2 separate regions of the Homo sapiens genome follow, and region 1 is linked to region 2. Evidence: fine-mapped expression QTL. A gene starts in region 2. The other region holds a variant in brackets. All regions are shown on one strand. Distances are from middle to middle. Region 1 has its middle 12 kb from the start of RPS19BP1. Region 2 holds the start of MIEF1 (mitochondrial elongation factor 1).

Region 1 (4,512 bases), 43 kb before region 2:
CTGTGTTCTTCCTCCCACCCTCGCCTCCCCTCCCCTCTACACACACTCAGAGCCCCTGCCTCCTCTCCCTCTCCATGCCCACAGGGTGCTGCCTGTGCTCTCCTGCAGCCATTGGCACACATCCTAACCTGGCCCACAGTTCTTCCCACTAGGGAGTCAGTGCTAGGAGCTGACCATGGGGTTGGGCTCTGAGCTTAGAAATAACATGGTCCAAAGAGCCCCTTTCTGAAGCCAGGAAATCAAGTGGAAGGGGGCGATGATTGCCCAAGGTCACACAGCAGGCAAGTATAAGATGAACCACGCCAGTCTCCTGTGGCTGCCAGGCCAGACACTCCCCCAGAAGAAGGGAATGAAGGCCTGGGGTAGTGGGGCTGAGGACCCATGACAAGGGGCTGGAGAGGGGAGAGTGGGGTGTGAAGGGAGAAAAAACAAGAGCCAAGGCTTGCAGACCACAGAAAAAGTGGAAGTGTGTATGTGTGTGTATGTGTGCACATGCATGCACTCAAACTTGTTGGGGTAGGTGGAGGGGTGGTCAAGGGTCTTGGAAACAAAGGAGGGAGTGAATACCATTGGCAAATAATCTCTCGATCCCTGAGTCTAGGGATCCCCCTGCATCCTGACCCTCCAGAGAAAACTGGTGGGGAGGGTGGTCTTCGATGCTTAACCCACAGCGTTCACTTCCCAGGCACAGAGCTGCCCTCCCCTAAAGGAGAAGAAATCCACGGAGACACTCGCAGCCCCACATGTGCACACACACACAGACACAGAGACTGACACGTTCACACAGACCCACAAATCCCACAAACATCCTCACACGTACACCCAGATACTACTTGTATTAAATACACTATTACACCAAGGTACAGATTCACGCAAATACGTTCGCATTCCCTGTCGAGTACACACAGACACATGTATGTTATTATTAACTGTGGAGGGAGAGGTGGTAGGGGAAGGTGCAAGTGTGGTCAAGGGTCTTGGAAACAAAGGAGAGAGGGAATTTTATAGGAAAATTATCTCCAGATCCACAAGGAGCTCCTCCGACATCATCAGCACCCCCGATCCAGCTCCCTGCACCCCGACCTCCTGAGTCAGCGTTCAAGGCCTTTTGCTACCCAACAGCGGGTCATAAACCTACAAAACCTACAGAATAACTTCCTGAGCCAACCGCACGCCAACTGCGCGCCGGGCTGCTGTCCGTGGTGCTGAATTCCGCTTCGCCTCTCCGTGCCCTGGAAGGTGGCGATTCCCGCCCTAACCTCTCCCAGGAAGGAGTTCAGTAGGATTGAGGGAAGAGGCTGCGGCAGGAAGGAAGGGACAGGAGGAGACGAAGGACAGGGACGGTGAGAAAGGCAGCTCCTGCCAGGGGTTTTCAGGGAGAGAGAGCAGTGTTTGCTTTGACATCGCTTTCAAATAACCACAGTGACCAAGGAAAACACCACCAGCGAAGATGGCCGACAAGTCGGGGAACCACTGCAGAGGGAGACGCCCGTGTGCCCGGCTGTGCAAGGCTGGGCGAGTGTTGACACAGAAACGAATCCAGGCCGGAGGGGAGAGCCTGGGCGGGCTTGGAGTAATGTCCTCAGCTGAGCCAAACCAAAGCACTTCCAGTTTTCTCATGTTTTCGTTACCCATCTCGATGAAAAGGTTGTGAGTTTTCACACTGTCACAGAACAAACAGAGCTGTGACTTCCGTTTCCCAGGGTACGTGGCTGTTTCATGTTCTCCTGACAGCTCCATCACATTTCTGACAGTCTCTAAAATTTTGTTTTCCTCTGGGGAGGGAGAGGAGCACTAACCTTCCCTTCCCCTGGTCAGACAAAGGGGCCTCGTTGGCTGGCACACACCTGCTCCTCAGAGGTCAGTTACACTTTCCCTATCCCTCACTGACTCATGCCTCCAGGCCTCTGCACATGCTGCTCCCCCCAACCTGGAGTGCCCTCCTTTCTCCTTCGAGGCCCAGCTCCCCAGTGTCCCCCACTGGAGAGGGAGCTTCTGGAAGGCAGGAAATACCATAACTCATTGCAGCACCCCCAGCAGCTAGCACAGAGCCTGCCATACCGATTCACTTAGTTATCTGTCCTTCTATATGAGAAAAATACTTGGCTGAATATCCTAGGGTTAGGGTGGGGGTACAAATTGGTTCCTCGAACAAAAACAGTATCGCAGGTATTACAGAAGAAGAGATGTCCAAGTTTATGGATATAAACGTATTGCCTATAGCTGAGCATAGTGGCAAACGCCTGTGGTCCCAGCTACTCAGGAGGCTGAGGTGGGAAGATCACTTGAGCCTGGAAGGACGTGGGCACAATAGCTCACGCCTGTAATCTCAACACTTTGAGAGGCTATGGTGGGGAGATCATCTGAGGTCAGGAGTTCAAGACCAGCCTGGCCAACATGGCAAAACCTTATCTGTACTAAAAATATAAAAATTAGCTGGGCAGGCCGGACGCGGTGGCTCACG[T/C]CTGTAATCCCAAAACTTTGGGAGGCAGAGGCGGGTGGATCACGAGGTCAGGAGTTTGAGATCAGCCTGACCAATATGGTGAAACCCCATCTCTACTAACAATACAAAAATTAGCTGGGCGTGGTGGTGCGCACCTGTAATCCCAGCTACTCAGAAGGCTGAGGCAGGAGAATTGCTTGAACCTGGGAGGCGGAGGTTGCAGTGAGCTGAGATCGCGCCACTGCACTCCAGCCTGGGCGAGTGAGACTCCATCTCAAAAAAAAAAAAAAAAAAAAAAAAAAAAAATCTGGGCATGGTGGTGTGCGTCTGTAGTCCCAGCTACTTGGGTGGCTGAGGCTGGAGAATCGCTTGAACCCAGGAGGCAGAGGTTGCAGTGAGCCGAGATCACATCATTGCACTCCAGCCTGGACAACAGAGCGAGACTCTGTCTCAAGAAAAAAAAAAAAAGAAAAAAAGAAAAGAAAAGAAAAGAAGGCCGAGCACGGTGGCTCATGCCTATAATCCCAGCACTTTGGGAGGCCAAGGCGGGTGGATCACCGGAGGTCGGGAGTTCAAGACCAGTCTGACCAACCCCGTCTCTACTAAACATACAAAATTAGCTGAGGTGGTGGCTCATTCCTGTAATCTCAGCTACTCAGGAGGCTGAGGCAGGAGAATCCCTTAAACCTGGGAGGCGGAGGTTGCAATGAGCCGAGATTGCGCCATTGCACTCTAGCCTGGGCAACAAGAGCGAAACTCCATCTCAAAAAAAAAAAAAGGAAAGAAAAGAAAAAGAAACTTACTGCCTAAATCAACCTTAAAGACAATTGAATAGAATCTTCCCCCCCACCCTTGGTACCATTTTGCAGATGAGAAAACTAAGGCTGAGAGAGAAAAGGCCTCTTGCAAGATTGTCCAGGAAGACAGTGGTATCTGAGACTGTGGGAAGGATCTTTCTGAGCAGGAGGAGTGGGGGCCGGCTCTCTCTCTTAGGCCCCTGGGCTGGCCTGGGCCAAACACACCTCTCCGGAGAGAATCTTTGAGCCCAGCAGGAAGATGGCCCCACCTCCCCTCCTCCACCACTCCACCTGCCAAAGGATCCCAGCCATCAAATAATGAACGATTCCTAATTTACTTACAACTTTAATTCATCTGGGTCTCTGAGGAACTAGGGACTGGAGACTCAGCTGGAGTCTGAGAAACACTCAGTAATTCCCAAGAGGGAGGGAGGATTTCCTCTCCTGTTTCACAGAAGGGAGAAGGAGAGACTAGAAGCTCTCATTTTCCTGCAGAACTCTGTATACCACTGCTTCCCTGCAAGAAATCCCCCTTCAGACTTGAGCTTTGGGTCGGGGAGGCAGGGGGTAGAGAAAGTAAGGGACAGAGGAGAACGCCCCCACGTGGTACTGGAAAGCACACAGGGCTCGCGCACGCAGCCGGGGAATTGGTTGCAGATGGCCGTATGATCATAATCCTGGTGAGCGTTTCTTGAGGTCTTCTCTTGGCAGGCACTTTATCTGACTTAACTTTTGTTTTGGGGTTTTTTGTTTTTTTGTGTTTTTTGGTTTTTGTTTTTAGATGGAGTCTCGCCCTATCACCCAAGTTGGAGTTCAATGGCACGATCTTGGCTCACTGCAGGCTCTGCCTCCTGGGTTCAAGCGATTCTCGTGCCTCAGCCCCCTGAGTAGCTGGGATTACAGACGCATGCCACCATGCCTGGCTAATTTTTGTGTTTTTAATAGAGATGCGGTTTCACCATGTTGGCCGGGCTGGTCTTGAACTCCTGACCTCGTGATCTGCCCACCTCAGCTTCCCAAAGTGCCGGGATTACAGGCGTGAGCCACTGCCTGTGTGAGCCTGGCGGGATTGTTTTTTTTTTTTAAGATAGAGTCTTTCTCTGTTGCCCAGGCTGGAGTGCAGTGGCGTGATCATGGCTCACTGCAACCTCGAACTCCCAAGTTCAAGCAATCCTCCCACCTCGGCCTCTCAAAGTGATGTATTGGGTGGCTCACACCTGCAGTCTCAGCAGTTTAGGAGGCCAAGGTGGGAGGATTGCTTGAAGCCAGGAG
Region 2 (4,000 bases):
ATACAGGTTGTGGTTCACCAGGGCTCAAATCCTGGCCCTGCCACTTACTTGCCATATGACTTTGGGCAAAGGACTGAACCCCCGCTGAGCACCAGCTTCCTCACTTATAAAATGGAGATTAGGATATTATGGCAATAGTACCTACCACATAGGATTATTTTGAGAACTGTGCACGTAATGAACGGTAATAGAACTTCACCACAGGGGGTGATCTAGGAGGGTTGAAGACAAGCACTCAGCCATACTTGAATCCTGGCACCAGCACTTACGAGCTGCATGACCGTGGGCAAGTCTCCTAACCTCTCTGTGACTGTCTCAGTTCCTCATCTGTGAAGTGAGGATAAAAATCATATTTTGCCCATACGGTTGGCATAAGCACTAAATGAGTTTAATGTATGTGAATATGTTTAGAACAGCACTTGGCACACACGAAGCACTCTATCAACAGCAGATATTATTAGTAGCACCTAGCCAGGTTTGTAAATGCTCAATAAATAATTACATTTAAGTATAAACTGCCACTGCCTTCCTTCAGTAACAATAAACCCTTACACAAGCATATCTGTAAAGTGCTTTGTTGCCCATGACCACATTTAAATTAAGAATCTAGAAGGTGGTCAGGGTTCTTAGTAACAGTAAATGCTTATTGCATTATATTGCACTATATACAACGTGCAATGTTCGAAGCATGTCTCACATAACAACTCATTCTGTCAGCTACCCTAGGGGTCAACATTACCCCATTTTAAGTGGAGGAAACAATCTCCCAGAGGGAAGTAACTTGCCCGCGGGCCCACAGCTGTCAAGGGGAGGGCTGCACTCCTGACCCCAACTCTGCCTGCCTCTGGAATGAGTTACCCTTTGCTGGAGCCGGACCGTGTGTACAGCACTTCTGGGTGCTCCACGAACTTTCCCAGCACAGCGCTTGGCACATACAAGGGGCTCAAAATTATGCGTAACGGAGAGAATTTCACAACGTCCCTATGTGGAAGAAATGATCACCTCCGTTTCAGAAATAAAGAAATGACACCAAGTGGGGGAAGTATTTGGCTGGAAAAAAAGATTGGACTTTGGGCCCAAAGTCCGCGAGCCCTTAGCCTCCGGCCTTGCTAACTTCCTGCGCAAGCTTGAGCAAGCCACCATCCCTGCCCATTTTTCCTCAACTGTTTAAGAGATCCCTCGGCCCTAAGGACCTCCCGATGCAGAAAATCAACAGAAGTGTTTGATGCTGTAAAAGGCGACTGTCACGGCGAGGGCTGTAACTACAAGGTCGCTGGGCGACTGGGCGGCTGAGCCCCAGCCAGTCTGCACTTCACCAACCGTGGGGGCCGGGCCGGGGTGCGGAGGCCCAGAGGCCAGGGCAGGCCTGCTTCGGGGCACTGGAGGTCTCCGAGGTTGGGGCGGGGCGGGGCAGCCGAGGGGTCTCCCAGGGGAAAGTCCAGGGCGGGATGGGGCGAGACCCCCGGCTGCATGCTGGTATCCTGACTCCGGGCCGCATGCGAGGCGCCGGCAGCAGCCTGAGAGGAGGCGCTGCAACCTCCCCGCCGCCCAGCCGCCGGCGGCCCTCATTCCTTCTCTCACTCACCCGCAGGCCGTGCGCGCTACCACTCCGCAGGACTCGCCTCTGGCCGGGTACCTCTCCCCGGGTCACCCATCAACATGGCCCCTTCACTTCCGGGACACGACCTTGCGCACGGAGCTGCGAAGGGGCTGAAGGGAGCACGAGGGCGAGTGGAGGCGGAGGGACTTCCGGTCTTCTCCAAGCTCTCTCTCGGGCCCCGCCCCCTGCGCATGATTCCGCCCCCCAATCCTGAGCCCCGCCTCCGTGTGTGACCTCACCAAGGGACTGGCCTGCAGAGGCCACTCGCGCCCCGCCCCCAGAGGACTCCGGTGTCCGGGTCCGGCTGTGGGTACCGGGGTGGTCCCGATGCTGGCAGAAGTTCAGAGGGCAGGAGGTAGCCTCGCTGTCCAACAAGGCTGCCGCACCGGGTAGGCCCCTCACCTGCTGGCAACCCCTTAGCCTGTCGGGGTACCTGGCCAGCCTCCTGTACTGTATATGCTGATCTCTGGCTGGGGCCCTGGGGTACCTGAGGGAATTCTAACACTAATATTCAGAGCTCCTCAAAACCCATTTTCTCAGATCGCCTTCTTTTCATCCCTCCATGCTGTTCCTACTCCCCAGGCCCCATGGCTTCTGGCAAACTCCTACCCTTCCTTCAAAGTCTACCTCAAATGCCCCCCTTCACTGGGAAATCTCTCCCAGCCCCTTCCTCGCCTCCCTCTAACACACTCACGTGCCTTCTTTGGGCCCCACGGAAATGTCTGCACATCTTACGCCTCATAATCTGTTCAACAACAAAACGTATTTCTTGGCGCCTACCATATGCCAGGCACTGTAATTTATCCATTTGCTTCTCTGTCTCTCACTAGATTTGAGGACGGAGGCCGTGTCTCTATGGAAGCTCCCTCCCCCAACTGCCTCCCTCCATGCCTGGCTCTGCCAAGCCCAGGGCCTGGGGCTTTGGAGTCCGGGGCCACCGGGGCCACCGCTGGCTCCTAGTTCCAGTTCCACCACTTAGGGACAGCTGCCCTCTGCCAAGTTTCCTAACCTCACCCAGCCTTGGGGCTGTGGTGAGGATTAAAAGGTAATATCTACCAGTAGAGGGGTGGGCAATTGCAGAATAGTCAGGCTATCTGATAAAAGGACGAGAACCAGGAGAAGAACATTGCAGGGAAGAGCATTTCAGGCCTCCCCCCAGGTAAGCCTTTAAGCTCAGCGTGGTCTAGGAGCCACAGGGAGAAAGCCAGTGCTTTCGCAGCTGAGTGAGCAGGAGCTGGGAAAGAGGCCAGAGGGGAGGCCCTTACCAGAACTGGGAGGGAGATGGCGGGTGCAAAGGAACCACAGCAGGGTTCAGAGCCAAGAAGTGCTGGGATCTGACTTCCCTTTCAATGGGATCTGTCTGGCTTGAGAATAACGGAATGGAACCAGGGCTGAGGCAGGGAGACCAATCAAGAGTCTGTTGCAGGGCTGGGCACGGTGGCTCACGTCTGTAATCCCAGCACTTTGGGAGGCTGAGGTGGGCGGATCTACTTGAGGTCAGGAGTTCGAGACCAGCCTGACCAACATGGTGAAACCCCATCTCTACTAAAAATACAAAAATTAGCCGGGAGTGGTGGCATTGTACCTGTAATCCCAGTTACTTGGGAGGCTGAGGCAGGAGAATTGCTTGAGCCTGGGAGGCAGAGGTTGCAGTGAGCCAAGATCACGCTACTGTACTCCAGCCTGGGCGACAGAACAAGACTCGGTCTCAAAAAAAAGAAAAAGAAAAGAAAAGAAAACCAAGATGGAGAGAGGCATAGTAGTTTCTAAGACACTGAGCTAAGAAGGAAAGAAGCTTTCAGTGGAAGCCAAGTCTGTCTTACTCTGAAATGTGTGTTCTTTCCACTCTTTCAGGCTGCCCTAATTTGCTTTTTAAAGAATTTTGTGACCCAAATAAATATAATTGGTGGCATTTCCATCGGCATACCAGATGACCTCTTCATATCTCTCCTGACTTTCTTGTTCTATGGAATGTTATTTTTCGGAGGGAGGGACAGAGGGAGGTCATTTGGAGGGGTCTCCCCTTCGGATCAGCCCCTCTAGATCCACTTGCTCTTCAGGGTCTTATCTTTACTTAGACTGACAAGGCCTCTCCCTGCCCCCGATGCTTCCGTGGCAATGGAGTGTGGGCAGTGAGGTGGTATCTAGCACTTACATGTACGTACCCATGGTGCCTTTGTAGGCCAGAGACCCACGGCAGGGGGCACTGACCCAAACCTCAGGGCTCTGCCAGGTTTCACAGGGCAAGAGGCATTCCAGGATCTCTTGGATTGATATTGCAGGGTGTTTGTTTGTTTGTTTGTTTGTTTGTTTTGAGATGGAGTCTCGCTCTGTCTTTAGGCTGGAGTGCAGTGGCGCGATCTTGGCTCACTGCAGCCTCTGCCTCCCGGGTTCAAGTGA

Evidence for each region. PIP is the estimated chance that this variant, and not a neighbour inherited with it, causes the effect.
Region 1: its variant is the best candidate, but not a certain one, in a credible set for the expression of MIEF1 in whole blood (INTERVAL, PIP 0.86).

The regions. Positions count from the first base shown.
Region 1 is chr22:39,542,657-39,547,168 of GRCh38, reverse strand. No RefSeq gene overlaps it. Among named protein-coding and RNA genes, the nearest start is that of RPS19BP1, 12 kb to the right of the region's middle. The variant T/C (reference allele first, on the strand shown) is at 2,465.
Region 2 is chr22:39,500,023-39,504,022 of GRCh38, reverse strand. MIEF1 (mitochondrial elongation factor 1) reads right to left here and starts at 1,733. Exons shown (of 6, transcript NM_019008.6): 1 at 1,586-1,733. It overlaps LOC105373035 (a long non-coding RNA gene), which reads left to right and starts at 1,863. Exons shown (of 3, transcript XR_938263.4): 1 at 1,863-1,989; 2 at 2,431-2,759; 3 at 3,455-3,531. RefSeq lists a silencer at 1,335-1,444 and enhancers at 952-1,451, 1,545-1,594, 1,452-1,953.